Homo sapiens: one gene and its partner. The protein of the gene in region 1 purifies or fractionates together with the protein of each later gene. This does not show direct contact. Each region holds a gene or a part of one and is shown on either strand. Other genes may lie near its edges.

Evidence for each region. Proteins that work in one complex are often made in the same cells at the same time.
Region 2: the proteins of ZNF644 (region 1) and EHMT1 purify together in Homo sapiens (affinity purification with mass spectrometry; 2 studies listed by BioGRID and IntAct, with this or other methods). This does not show direct contact.

Annotation. Positions count from the first base shown.
Region 1 is NC_000001.11:91,019,022-91,026,548, reverse strand, and holds the start of ZNF644 (zinc finger protein 644), read left to right. Parts: upstream 1-4,513; 5' UTR 4,514-4,559; exon of another isoform or gene 4,560-4,860; intron 4,861-5,065; exon of another isoform or gene 5,066-6,566; intron 6,567-7,527.
Region 2 is NC_000009.12:137,776,003-137,783,025, reverse strand, and holds part of EHMT1 (histone-lysine N-methyltransferase EHMT1), read right to left. Parts: intron 6,409-7,023; coding exon 6,182-6,408; intron 5,145-6,181; coding exon 4,971-5,144; intron 3,392-4,970; coding exon 3,309-3,391; intron 736-3,308; coding exon 629-735; intron 1-628. UniProt on the Homo sapiens protein: Histone methyltransferase that specifically mono- and dimethylates 'Lys-9' of histone H3 (H3K9me1 and H3K9me2, respectively) in euchromatin.

The sequences.
Region 1 (7,527 bases):
GTAAAGCTCTGTGCTCAGGTCAGCGTGGAACAAAAATAAATACAAAACTTGGTTTCTGTTTACATCATCTCTCTTTCTACTCCACACATCCTCCCTACCCCCACTCCAATGAACAAACATACTGAACTATTTGCAGTTCCACAAGAGTGACTTGCTTTACAGTTTTGGTATTAAGAGGTTGATCCAGAACTAGTGGGATACTGAGCAAAATCCAAACTTGATTTGACTTTATTACTAGTAGATTAATGTTTCATTTCTTTCTTTTTGCTTGGAATTATAAAGCATTGGAATGAGGAGAATTATTTGTTTTTATCCAACACTGAACTGCATTTTCTTTTTGAGCAAGTCATTTGAGACCACAACTTACTTTATTTATTTATTTATTTTTGAGACGCAGTCTTGCTCTGTCACCCAGGCTGGAGTACAGTGGCGGGATCTCGGCTCACTGCAATCTCCGCCCCCCGGGTTCACGCCATTCTCCTGCCTCAGCCTCCTGAGTAGCTGGGACTACAGGCGTCCGCCACCACGCCCGGCTAATTTCTTGTATTTTTAGTAGAGACAGGGTTTCACTGTGTTAGCCAGGGTGGTCTCGATCTCCTGACCTCGTGATCTGCCTGCCTTGGCCTCCCAAAGTGCTGGGATTACAGGCATGAGCCACCGTGCCTGGCCACTTTATGTTTTTTATCAGGTAATTCCATTCACTGATAATCTGGTAATCACTAATGGATTCATACACTGTGTTAATATGGTCAGATTTTAACATATTAACAGTAGCCACATTATTAAAAAGTCAAAAAATAACATGCTGGTGAGGTTGCAGAGAAAAGAGAACACTAATATGCTGTTGGTGGGAGTGTAAATTGGTTCAACTGTTGTGAAAAGCAGTGTGGCAATTTCTCAAAGAGTTGAAAACAGAACTACCATTCAACCCAGCAATCCTATTGCTAGGTATATACCCAAAGGAATATAAATCATTCTACCATAAAGACACATGCATGTGTATGCTCACTGAAGTATCCCTCACAATAGCCAAGACTTGGAATTAACCTAAATGCCCATTAGTGGTAGACTGGATAAAGAAAATGTGGTATATATATACCTTGGAATACTATGCAGCCATAAAAAGAATGAGATCATGTCCTTTGCAGGAACTTGGATGGAGCTGGAGGCCATTATTCTTAGCAAACTAATTCAGGAATAGAAAACCAAAGGCTGCATGTTCTCACTTATAAGTGGGAGCAAAATGATGAGAACACAGGGACACAAGGGAGGGAACAACACACACTAGGGCCCACCTGAGGGTGGATGGTGGGAGGAGGGAGAGGATCAGAAAAAAATAACTACTGGGTACTAGGCTAAGTACCTGAGTCATGAGATAATCTGTACAAAACCCCAGTGACATGAGTTTACCTATATAACAAACCTGCATATGTACTCCTGAACCTAAAATAAAAGTTTAAAAACAACAACAGCAACAAAAACCAGCATCTTGCTTTTTATTTCTTTAAAACATTTACCAGGTGTATTCATTGGAGCATCATTTTATTCACAATGTGTTATGAATTTTCTCCCAAACTGTTTTCCACATCTTGACTTTCATTCTCAACTGTGATTTCCTTAAATATTTTGGCACTGAGCCACATAACTTGTCTTTGGATTTTTTCAGTTGCCTGTATGTTTTTTTCTGTCCATAAGTTTATTGTCTTTATCTGAAAAATCCTCATAGAAAATTGTTTGGTTTAGCTCTCAGCAGCCCGCTCCTGAGCTCTGAGGAAGCTTGCCTTCTTTTGAGCTACCCAATCTTTCTTCTGAGCAAGGGACATTTTGGGTCGGTTCCACTTCTTCTTTTTAACTTCTTTCTTGGGCTTCTTTTCACAGACTGGACTCTCTCGTATAGCAGCATGAGCTTTCTTACACATCTCTTCCATCATGTCTGGAGTTACACTGTTCTTCATGTATTGAGAGAACTGTTTCTTGTAACCATCTTCATCTTCTTCCATTAAGTAGCACATGTAATCTGCAACATTGTGGCCCATGATGTGCTTCCTGTGTACTTCTGCATTAAATTTCTTGCTTTCAGAATCATAACCAGGGAATCATTTAGTACTGTGAGGGACAGACAAGCCCCCATGCACAGCTCCCTTCAGAGTGCCAAAAACTTTACTGCCAGTAGTAGTTCTGGCAAGGCCTGCATCCTAATTGCAGGTAAAGGCACCTGGCTGACCATCAATGCTTACCACATTGTAGTCATCGCCAGTTGCCTCCACTTGGCCTTCATAGATCTTGTCCATGTCAAACCTATTGAGAAGCCTGCGGTCCAGCAGCAGGCCAGTACAATACGCTGCAGCATAATTTGTCAGGTCAACCTTCACACCATATTTTGGCAGTTCGTGTACATATGCTGTGCAGACTATCATATCCCCCTCTGTACGGGCATAAGCAATCTGACAAATGATACTCTGTTTGTTCCACGAACTATCATCCTGTATTTGGGTATGTTGTATTCATTTTTATCCTGTATCACCAAGTGTTTCTGAGCATAGTAATCAGTTTTACCCTCTCGTCGTCTTCTAAATTTCACTTGATATCTCTTAAAGTAGGCCTTATTCTTAATAACTTTTACAAACCCCATCCTGCAGAACAGAGACCCACGTCTGCGGCTAGACAGAGAACTCACGTGTATTTTTTTTTCTTTTCGCATTACCTTATTCAAGCTTTCTGTCATTATATTTTCTGCCATTCATAGAAGCTTTTGAGATCCATTTTGTACAGCGTTTCATCAACTATTACTACTTCTACTATTATAATTACTATGATTACTTTTACTGCTATTATGACTTCCACAGTATTACAATTCAGTTGCTGAGTTCTAGTGTAAAAAACAGCTTCATTAGTGAGACAAGTTCCTGATCATGGCTGAGTTCTGAATGATTCTATTTGCTTGTGTGATTTGTCTGCACATTAGTCAGTGGTATACATTAATGACAGTTATTTTCTTAGTAACTGCTTTTACAGTGATATAATGTAAGAATTTCCATAGTACATAATATTTTGTAGTAAGTCCAATAGTAAACTGAGAATGTCCAATTTTAATGGATTCTGCAAACGAAATGATCCAAAGAGCACCCCTCCCCCATTGACTGCAAATATATACGTATTTATATTTTATTGTTTACACATTTGTGTAAATGAAGACAGGAGATTTGCATTTTAAAGAGCCCAAAGAACTGTATGACTTCGAGAAAATCACCTTACTCCTCTTTGTCTCATTGGGTTACAATGAAATCGAGCAAGTTAGAACAATGCCTGGTACACAGTAAGCACTCAAAAGTGTTAGCTATTAAGTAATGAAGCAATTAATGTGTTTAGTCAAATATTTGTTGTTTGGAATCTACGTTTGCTGTTGCTGAAGGCATCATTCCATAGGAAAGAGAATGTTTCTCATTCTTGTCAAATAAATGCAGTTATGGTATATTCTTCCGAATGTCAATAACATCTTGAGGGTTTGGAGGGCCACAGTAATGACAGCTGTACAACTAAGGAAAACTTTTTTATTTTTAAATTTTTAAATGAGTAAACAGAGGTTCAGAGAAGCCAAATAATTAAGGCGGGACCAGTAGATTTCTCAAGAACTCTTGGTTAATCTTAAACATGTTAGCAGTTTCTCGTTGGCTCAGTCGAAAAACAAAAGAATAGCCCACTCAGTGTTTCTCTGCCCCAGGATCCTGTGGTGAAGTCTTGTTAAAAATGAAAATTTCCAGAACCCTCTAGGGACTGATTCTCTGAAGGGTTAACCAGCATCTCACATGCTTCTTATATAACTTTAATTCGTAGAACCACGACACTTTCAGTAATGCAGGGAGAGAGTATCCTCAGAGAGTCAAACTGGAGCAAACCTCGGCCACCTTTCAGGGCAGGCTGTCCGGGTAACTGAGATGTCACACTTGATGCTTTGCCTGGCCATCAAGCAACTCCCAACAATCTGCCCCCTTAAGATCCTAAAACCTTCCCTCTGCCATTACTCCACAGTTGTGATTGGCAAATATTGCTGTTTTCCTCAACAAGAGGAAAATAACAGAGATTTTTGCACGCTCGTGATCGTGGAACTCAAACCTGGGCCTGTTCCACCTTAAAGGGCCTAGGCATGCCTAGTGCTTGGGTCTTGCAGAGTTTGGGCACCACCATATTTGGAGCGTGCCTACTTTGGGGCGGGAACCTCCTTGGGAGTGATTAGGTCAGCGCTGGGGGAGGTGACCTTGTTTGGTTTCTGGCACCCGAGAACAGTGGTGCACTGTTTCCGCTGCCCTCGTTTGTCTAATTGGCCCAGACGCTCCACCAGCGCGAAGCTTCCCGGGAGCTCCTCGCTGGCCACCCCCGCGGCCCGCAGCCCGGCAGAGGCGGGAAAGCAGCGCGCCTGCGCCGTGGGAACCGGGGCTGGAGGCGAAAAGCGGGGAGCGGAGGGGGGCCGCTGGAGCCGAGTAGCGTACAGAGCGGCGTGTGACGCGGGGACGCCGCGTGCTCCCAACGTCGCCCCGGTTTGACGCACACGGCACCAAACTGTGAGTTTCAGGGGTTATTTGGTCAGATTCGCTGGGACCCGAGTGGGTTTCGGGCCTCTGGGCTGTGGCAGCGGCGGGACTGAGGGTGGCGGAAGAACTTGGGGGACCCGGCCTCCGGCTCTCGGGCCCGGGGAGCTACGCCCTAGGCTGGGTCCCAGCCATCCAAAAGGACGCATTTTGCCGCACAGGCTAAGATGGCGGCGGCGGCCGAGGAGGCGGAGTTGGTGCTACACAAGGAGCCCGGGCCCCGGGTTCGGGGAGGCGGCGGCCGCGGCGGTCGCTGGGGGCCACGGAGCCTGAGGTGAGCGGCGGCCGCCGCCGCGGGGCGGGACTCGGCGGGGGGATGGGGGGGGGGCTTTCCGCTGCGGCGTCGGAGGATCCGGTAGCGGACACAAAGGGGCTGAGCTGGGCACTAGACTTGGGGGTTTTGTTTAGTCACATGAAGCCGAGCAGCCAGTGAGCAGTAGGGGGAAGGGGCCGAGATCAGGCGGCTTGGGGAGCCTGGCGGTCGCCATTGCAATGCACTGAGTAACGGGGCGGGCCGAGAGCAGTCACCAACCCCTCTCGTTGAGGCTGCTCGGTTGTGGCCAGAAACGCTGGCTCTGGCATTAACTGTCTACACCCCTCCCCTTACTTGGGACAGGACCGCATAGCCCTCCCCTCCCCCCGTCCTGCAAGATCTTATGCGGCTAGGTGCCTGGGAAGTAACAGCAAGAGGTAAATCGCTCGAAGTGTTTGGGTTGCCAGGGGCTTGGTGGGTGTCCAGCTAAAGCTTTTTGCCTCTCCAGGTCTGATTCTCTGGCCTTTGTGTCCCTGGGAAGTTACTCTGCCAGAGGAAAGCAGGTGTGCTCCACTTCTCCCGTGAACCTGAAGATGAGTTGTCCCAGACTCTTCTCAGTGATTGGAAACTTAGGTGGTGGAGCTAAAGGTTACTTGTTACGAGACTTCTACAGACAACTCTTGTTGGGATCCATCTATGGTTTAGCAACATTAGTGGAAAAGTTTTCTTGAATATTGACTTTGAATATAAAAACGTTTATATTTAGACTTCAGATTTTGTGTGATCATCAAACTCAACGAGGGGATAAACATAATTGGGGGCGAATGATGGTCTTGTCTTGTTAATAATTTCAACAGAAGTATCACAACACCGCCGACTATCCTGTCCAGTCCTAATTCCACGCTTGTTGCATCTGGATGGTAGATTTGTTTTAATTGTGTATTCCCTCCCTGCAGTAGTTTGCTTTAGTTGTAAACATTTTTTGGTCCCATGAGAAGGAAAACATTTCAAAAAATAGACAACTAAAGTTTCTCAAAGAAAGGAAACCTGGCTGTTTGCCTTCAGTTGCATGTGTAAGTATCTAGGGAACTTGATGGCAGTAATATTGCATTTTGGTAGGCTTGCTAAGAAAAACCTCGTTTTTATAATAAGGCTATAATCTAGCTTAGACATTTTAATTGGTGAAGCATAAAGCTTGATTAGTATTAATGCAGTGGTATGTATTGCTTTTAAAAGTCTTACAATTTCTAACAAATTAAAGTTATACTGCAATTATATCATACTTTGTGTTGGTATTAACTCATGAAGTACAAAATTTTGAAACACCTAATGTTTTGTGTTGGCAATTAACAGAATTCCTTGGTTGGAGGGATATTTAAACACATTAGATCACTGTGTAGATCTCTGTGTTCAAACTGAAATTTGAATTTTTCAACATTAGTTAACTTTCATTTCCTTGTTCTTTTCAGATATATATTTTCTCTTTTTTTAGCTTCTAATACAGAACAGTCTTGTATTAATGAATAGGAGATGCATTAACATTAGCAAATGTATTCCTGGATCATAAAGTTTTACAGTGGAAGCAATATCAAAGAACAACTGCTCTTACCCTCCTCTTTTACAATATATTGAGGACCAGAGATGATTAAGTTAGTGGCATAATGGAAAATTGCCTTTCAGCCTCTACCCATTGCTGTTTGTATTTGTCATATTGCTGGGATGAGAAGGTGAATATCTACAACTAATGGTTAAAAAAACAAGGGAATGTTATTGAGAATACTTGTTAATTAAATATTGTTAGGTTCATGAGAACTTCTGTGACAATAAGTTAAAAACTTTCATATTGGCCTGGCACGGTGGCTCACGCCTGTAATCCCAGCACTTTGGGAGGCTGAGGCGAGCAGATCACGAGGTCAAGAGATCGAGACCATCCTGGCTAACATGGTGAAACCCCGTCTCTACTAAAAATGTAAAAATTTCCTGGGCGTGGTGGTGCCTATAGTCCCACCTACTCGGGAGGCTGAGGCAGGAGAATCACTTGAACCCGGAAGGCAGAGGTTGCAGAGAGCTGAGATCGTGGCACTGCACTCCAGTCTGGTGACACAGCAAGACTACATCTCAAAACAAAAAAACAAAAAAACTTTCATATTCTGTGGTTAACTTGGTTTTTAAAGTGACTTTCAGTGAAACAAAATCAGGTACAAAATACAGAAATATCAGATAGTTTCAGAGCAATGTTGCTTTTGAATTTTAAGGTTTTCCAAATGCAGTCTTGACCCAGAAATTGAAAAATTAAAAAACAACAACCAGGGACTTGATAAATTTCTTTGAAAGTTTGAAATAACTGCTGTTATTGCCAGTTATTATGTAGGAAAAGAAATGAGATCAATGCTGAAAATAATGGTGTCTTTCATTTTGTAATAGTGTTTTGGTTGGATAAACGAATGTGCCACTCAGAATGTTCCCTTTCTTTAAAACAACTTTTTAAGACTACTACTTCTACTGAGTGGTACCTCTAAGGTCTGTTAGGAAATTGAACAAGTAGTGACAGTCATTTATGGTGGAACCCTATAGTGATTTTTAACTTCTTTGAATGTCAGATTTAGCAAAAAGTTAAATTGTTTTAAGGTTTTAAAAGTTTTTATGGGTCATATAAGGTGCTTTTAAATTACTGATTTTTGTTAGTTG
Region 2 (7,023 bases), on another chromosome or scaffold:
CAGAAGTCAGACTGCACCAGACTCAAACCTGGCACTTGAGAAACAGGGGATCCAACACCGGGATCAGGGAAGGGGCGTCACAGGGGGACAAACAGCGTCGTGTGTCTGAACCCAGAGACAAGCGGGCAGCGTTCAGATGGTTCAGAATAAATTAGCAGGTGGCAGAGTCAACTCAACCAACAGAAACACAAGCCAGTGATTAACGACAGACACAACATACCCTGTAGACGACGTGGTTCAGCTTGAAAATGCTCACACGATCTGATCTAAACAAAATGGGAGCCAGTCAACGGGGCTGGGGGAGGGGCGTCCGTGCCTCTGCGAGTGCTTGGCTCCCCCAGAGGGACGTCATGAGTGTGAAGAACCAAAACCAAAACCAAAGAAAGCAAATCAAGAAACAGCCAAATGGCGGCATGCTCTTCTCAAAGGCCGTGGTAAATGCCGGAAGAAACAGCGGGAAGCACTGATCCACCTGCAGGACTCGGGGGCAGAAAAGCTGACTCTGTGCCCGATTCACAGCACTACGGAACTCTTACACTGGAAGAACCGCGAACGTGGTATGATTTTACTTTGGTAAAAATAAAAGAGAGCAGGTGAAGAGCCCTAGGAGGGCGCCGTGCCGCCGCACCTGAACCAGCATGTGGCAGATGTCCACGTGTCCAGCCTCTGCCGCGGCGTGCAGTGGAGAGCGCTTATTCTGGTGCTCCATTTTGAAGTTGGGGTCAATTCCGTCCACTGTGAACAAACACAGTTTTATTAATGATTTCAGATGTAGCCACAGACTCCAGCTCAGGACTGTCACGATGGCTGGCAAGCACTCACAAATGACCATCCTCCACATAAACAGCCACCTCGAGCCACGCCGGAACCCGCCCACAGCACCATCCTCTGGACTTGAGACTTGAGTGTGCTAGTCTCCTGCGGAATTGAACAGGCAGGTCCCTCTGTCAGAACTAACTCGGCAAGGCACGCTCTTCCCTTTACCACCCTGCTCTAACTCTGAGGTTCCTTCTGTGTTTCTGTGTGGCCTGGCCATGGCCGCCCCAGGCCCAGTGAGGCGGCTGACCAGGGCAGACACACCCTAGGGGAGCAAGCAAGGCCGGGGACAGAGGCCTGAGCATCGGTCAATTCCCAGGAGGTCTGAGAGGACGGTGAGCAACGGAGCAGTGAGGTGACCTTCACAGGTGTCCTGTGAAGTCCATGACAAAATGATTAAAACTGCTGGTCAACATAAATAAACCTTTCTTTAAAAGCAAATAGTTTCACTTCTTTTTACTTGACGTACTGTCCAGTAAAGGGCTTCTTAATCATCCTTTTCAACCCAGAGACGATGAACGTCAGAGAAATCAAGCCTAAAGCTATGAGCTCAGAGACCAAATTATCACTGGGAAGGCTCTCTAACAAGTATGCTTTTGCGTATTAGAAATCTAATGCAATCGGTTTGCCTGTTATAAAATACCTATAGCTGAAGCCTACTTTGTCCACACCACAGCTGCTGCGATCAGCACAGGTGAAACATCGACTGCCGTCATCACCACACATTCCAGCGTCATGACCACACATCTCAGCATCATCACCGCATATCCCAGCGTCATCACCACACATCTCAGCATCATCACCACACATCCCAGCGTCATCACCACACATCCCAGCGTCATCACCACACGTCTCAGCGTCATCACCACACGTCTCAGCGTCATCACCACACATCTCAGTGATGCCGTCATCACCACACATCTCAGCGTCATCACCACACGTCCCAGCGTCGTCACCACACGTCCCAGCGTCGTCACCACACGTCCCAGCGTCGTCACCACACGTCTCAGCGTCGTCACCACACGTCCCAGCGTCATCACCACACGTCTCAGCGTCATCACCACACGTCTCAGTGATGCCGTCATCACCACACATCTCAGCGTCATCACCACACATCCCAGCGTCATCACCACACATCCCGGCGTCATCACCACACGTCTCGGCGTCATCACCACACGTCTCGGCGTCATCACCACACATCCCGGCGTCATCACCACACATCCCAGCGTCATCACCACACGTCTCAGCGTCATCACCACACATCTCAGTGATGCCGTCATCACCACACATCTCAGCGTCATCACCACACATCCCAGCGTCATCACCACACATCCCGGCGTCATCACCACACGTCTCGGCGTCATCACCACACGTCTCGGCGTCATCACCACACATCTCAGTGAGATGCCGTCATCACCACACATCTCAGCGTCATCACCACACATCCCAGCGTCATCACCACACATCCCAGTGTCATCACCACACATACCGGCGTCATCACCACACGTCTCGGCGTCATCACCACACGTCTCGGCGTCATCACCACACATCTCAGTGAGATGCCGTCATCACCACACATCTCAGCGTCATCACCACACATCCCAGCGTCATCACCACACATCCCAGCGTCATCACCACACATCTCAGTGATGCCATCACCACACATCTCAGCGTCATCACCACACATCCCAGCGTCATCACCACACGTCTCAGCGTCATCACCACACGTCTCAGCGTCATCACCACACATCTCAGTGATGCCGTCATCACCACACATCTCAGCGTCATCACCACACATCCCAGCGTCATCACCACACATCCCAGCGTCATCACACGTCTCAGCGTCATCACCACACGTCTCAGCGTCATCACCACACATCTCAGTGATGCCGTCATCACCACACATCTCAGCGTCATCACCACACATCCCAGCATCATCACCACACATCCCAGCGTCATCACCACACATCCCAGCGTCATCACATCTCAGCGTCATCACCACACATCTCAGCGTCATCACCACACATCTCAGTGATGCCGTCATCACCACACATCTCAGCGTCATCACCACACATCTCAGCGTCATCACCACACATCCCAGCGTCATCACATCTCAGCATCATCACCATACATCTCAGCGTCATCACCACACATCTCAGCGTCATCACCACACATCTCAGGGCCACAACTCACTAGTTTTGCTTTTCCTTAATCTCTATTTCTGCTTGATTTAATAATCACATACCAATTCCTTTTTAAAAATTAGAACTTCGTAGAGAATAGTTCTAATATCTTGCGTAACTGGATATGAACACCATAAAAAGCCTCAACACCAGTGGGCAACCTATTCTCACTCATCAGAGAACTCGGAGACACAGAAACAGAAAACCAAAACGAGACCAGCCTCCTGAGGAAGGAGTAACAACTGCTCTCGGCTTCTTTCAGTGCCACAGGGCCGGCTGCATGTGCCCGGGCCGCAGGAAGGCACTTACCCAGCATGAGGAGCACCTTCTGAAGCTCCCCTTGCCTGGCGGAGAAGTACAGCTGCTTTGGGTGGAAGCGAAGCTTCTTGGGTCTGTGGGAAGCACAAGACAACAGTCAGCATGGGGCTCTGCATCCCACACATGAAGCTGAAGGCTGGAAGGCCCGGCGGACATCTCCCCACCAGCCCCTCAAGCTCATGGGGCTCCGCGTCCCACACATGAAGCTGAAGGCTGGAAGGCCCGGCAGACGTCTGCCCACCAGCCCCACAAGCTCAAGTGCAAACCCACCAGTCGAGATATCTCATGGTAAAAACTGCGGACAAGAAACTGCGTTCCCAGTCACCGCAGGAGAACACTACGCACTGTGAGGCTTTTACACAACACGACGACAGAACCAGCGCAGGATGCAGGGGAACCTCATCTACGCTCAGCACAGCCGGGACCAGCCCCAGCCAGGATGAGCCCACACAGCGTGGTCACGAGTGAGGGCACAGCTCGCACTACAGAAGATGTCCTGGGCGGTGAGAGCTGGGAACACTGGCACTTTTGCTCTGAAACCTTAACTCGATGACTAAGCTGATAACTGATATGGTGTGGACCTCTGTCCCTCCCAAAACTCACGTTGAAATGTGACCTCCAGTGTTGGAGGTGAGACCTGGTAGAAGGTGACTGGATCCTGGAGGCAGATCCCTCATGAATGGCTTAGTGTCATCCCTCCCCCTGGTGATGAGTGAGTTCCCGCTCAGTCAGTTCCCACAAGATCTGGTCGCTTAAGAGTCTGGGAGCCTCCCCCTTCTCTGTCTCTTGCTACTGCTCCTGCTTTGCCTTCCACCATGACTGTAGCTTCCTGAGGCCTCCCAAGGAGCAGATGCCAGCACCATGCTTCCTGTACAGTCTGGAGAACCGTGAGCCAATTAAGCCTCTTTTCTATATAAATCATCCAGCCCTGGGCATTTCTTTATATTGACACAAAAGCAGACTAACACAATCACCAAGGGATGGGGGAGAGAGTGGGGTCAGGAACAGTCTGGGGTCTGGTCAGCGAGCAGAGCCTGTGGGTCAGGAACAGTCTGGGGTCTGGTCAGCGAGCAGGGCCTGTTGGCGTCAGCAGATGGTACCGTCGCTTCAAGAGCAGGCTCAGAGGCGAGGCTGGAGGCAGACAGAGGGGAGATCCAGGGAGGAGGCACCGCAAGCCTCACTGCCACAGTCTGGTCTGCCTCCCTGGTGGGGCAATGCTGAGAGGAGGACGAGGAGGGGTGGGTTTTTGTGAGCTGTCGGGAAAGCCTGGAGGGCCCCTTGGCCCAACCCTCGCATTGCACAGATGGGGTGTGGCCTGGGAGGGAAACGGAGTCAAGGCAGCAGAAGCAGTGTCTGCTCTCATGACCTAAGGGCAGCTCAGGGCCAACAGCAACCAGGAAATGTTTGTCAAAGCTCACCAAGACCTGCCTCCTCACTTAGGACTTCAAAGGTGTCAGAGGTTGCTCTTACTATAATGCAGAGGACAGTAATTTACAATAATTTCCCAAAATAGTGTGAAAATATACGAATTATTCTAACGAACAGCATTAATCAAAAAGCTGAGAAGTGCTAAAGTGACACCATGGGGAAAAACGCGGGGTGCAGATTAAAACAGGCTCTGAGACATCTCTGAAATCACATGTCAGGTCTTACTTTTCCGAGTCGAGGGCGATGAGAGCGCTCTCCAAGGTTTCCTTCCCTGGTCCCTGGGAAAGGCCGGGAGTTGGCCTCCCAAGCCCAGCAGGTCCCGTTGGATCAAAGCCCTCGGGCACGTGGGAGGCTGCACCCTGCAGCTTGTCGTCCTCCGAGAGTGGTGGCCCGGCAGCACTTCAGGGGAGGAAATCGGGGAAAGGTTTATGAAAACACGAAACATGGCCTGTTCCGACTCTGACTGCCCGAGAGCGCTGTTTTCTAAGTGAGAGCTGCGGATTTGCTTACTGTCCGCTTAGTCCCTGGATTTAACGGTTCAGGATTCAGAACCAAATTTCCTGAGAAAACTAGGGCAACTTTTCCTAGACTTCTGGGCAGCGTGTTCAAATACACTCTCATGAATGAGCTTCAAGCTGAATCTATCAAGTCCACTGCCCACCCCAACAAAAGGAAATCCCACTGGAATTTTGATTCAAAGTGCATTAAATTTACAGGTTAATAGGAAGGAATCACCTTAACATGTCCACAATTTGAGTCTCTTTTAAATAATCTTCAAGGAAGTTTATTTTCTTTATATTAGTGTCACATTTAAGTTCTTTGTTCTGCTGGGTAGTAACAAGTTTTGTTGCTGTTTTGAAAGGGTCTCTTTTGTTATTTTATTCTCAGGCAGGGAACTGCTGCTAAGGAAGAAGGCAAGTGGCTTCTATCTCTTCTTATCAGATCCTCTTACTGACTCTTTTGAGCTCTAAAAATTTTTCAGCTGTTTCTACTGGACTCTTTCAGGAAGACAATTGTATCTGTCTAATATGAACACTTCTAATTATTTTAGACTTTTTTGTCTTCAGCTAAGGCCTTCAAACCTTAATACCACAGAACTCGGTCACAGACTGCAGCAGCCACCACTCGTCTATCGCTTGTGTACCAACAGGACTGTGCCATCAACAGAAACACCACAGAGCTACATCAATGGGGGTGCTGTGAAAACCGGTTCAAAACAGGCAAATGGATCTACATAACCAAACCGAAAGAGAGCAACGTATGCACAAATGGCAATAAATGAATTTCAGAGTCTTAAATGTCAGAAATCACCATAAGCATCAGCATCAGCTCAGAGACTTCTGGAAAAAACAGCAGGAAGCAATAACGTTGAGTTAACAACTGAAACTTTTTCAGGTGGACGACTGGAGAGCCCAGCCAGAGCCTGTGCCAGGTACCTGCCCGTTGTGGTGTCGGCCCTGCCCTCCAGGGCCGAGCCCTTCTCCTGCCCGGGGACTGGTGTCACGGTCGAGGTGGTGTCTGCTTTAGCTATCGTCACCTCTTTGGCCTTGGAGCTCTCCTCCCCACAGTGGGGACAATAGCTGGCGTTATTGACTCGAGAGGCACAGTCTTTGTGGAAACGGTGAGAGATGCTGCTCTCGGGCTGACACTCCATAAAATTACCCTAAAAATGGGAGGACAAAAAAAAATTTTTGTTTTAATTGGGGTTAATATTTAGAAAAATAAAGTACTACTAAACTGGCACCGCATCCCACATCGGGCGGTCTGCAGAGTGAGCCATGGGTCGGGGTGGGGTCCAGTCTTGGCCCCAGGCATCGTTAAGAAGGAGGAACGATGCTTCCCGTGGTGCTCTCGCCCCACAGAGAAGAAGCTGAAGCCAGACAGAGGTCACTTGGCTGCCTCCAACCCACCTAGGCCCAGGAAAGCTGAGGCTGCCCGCAAAGAGAAGGCCTAAAGAAGGACCCAGAAGGCCCCTACTCTGAAGGGCGGATAGGGACAGGGACAGACGACAGCACCTCAGGGCACAGCATCAGGCAGGTGGAGCTGCCTCAGTGCCCAGCAGTGCGCAGCAGATGTGGTTTGGCGACCCAGGTGAGCCTCGAGGAGGGGCACACAGCCGTAAGAACAGCATTTTCTTGCAGAAAGCCAGAGATAAACAGATGTAGCAGAACCAAAAAAAGGATGTTTGAAGATGGGGAGGACATGCAAGGTGTGAAGTCCAAAGAAAGTCTCCCAAAAGTGGAAGCTCTTGGCCCATGTTCGTAAAGGGGCAGCAGGG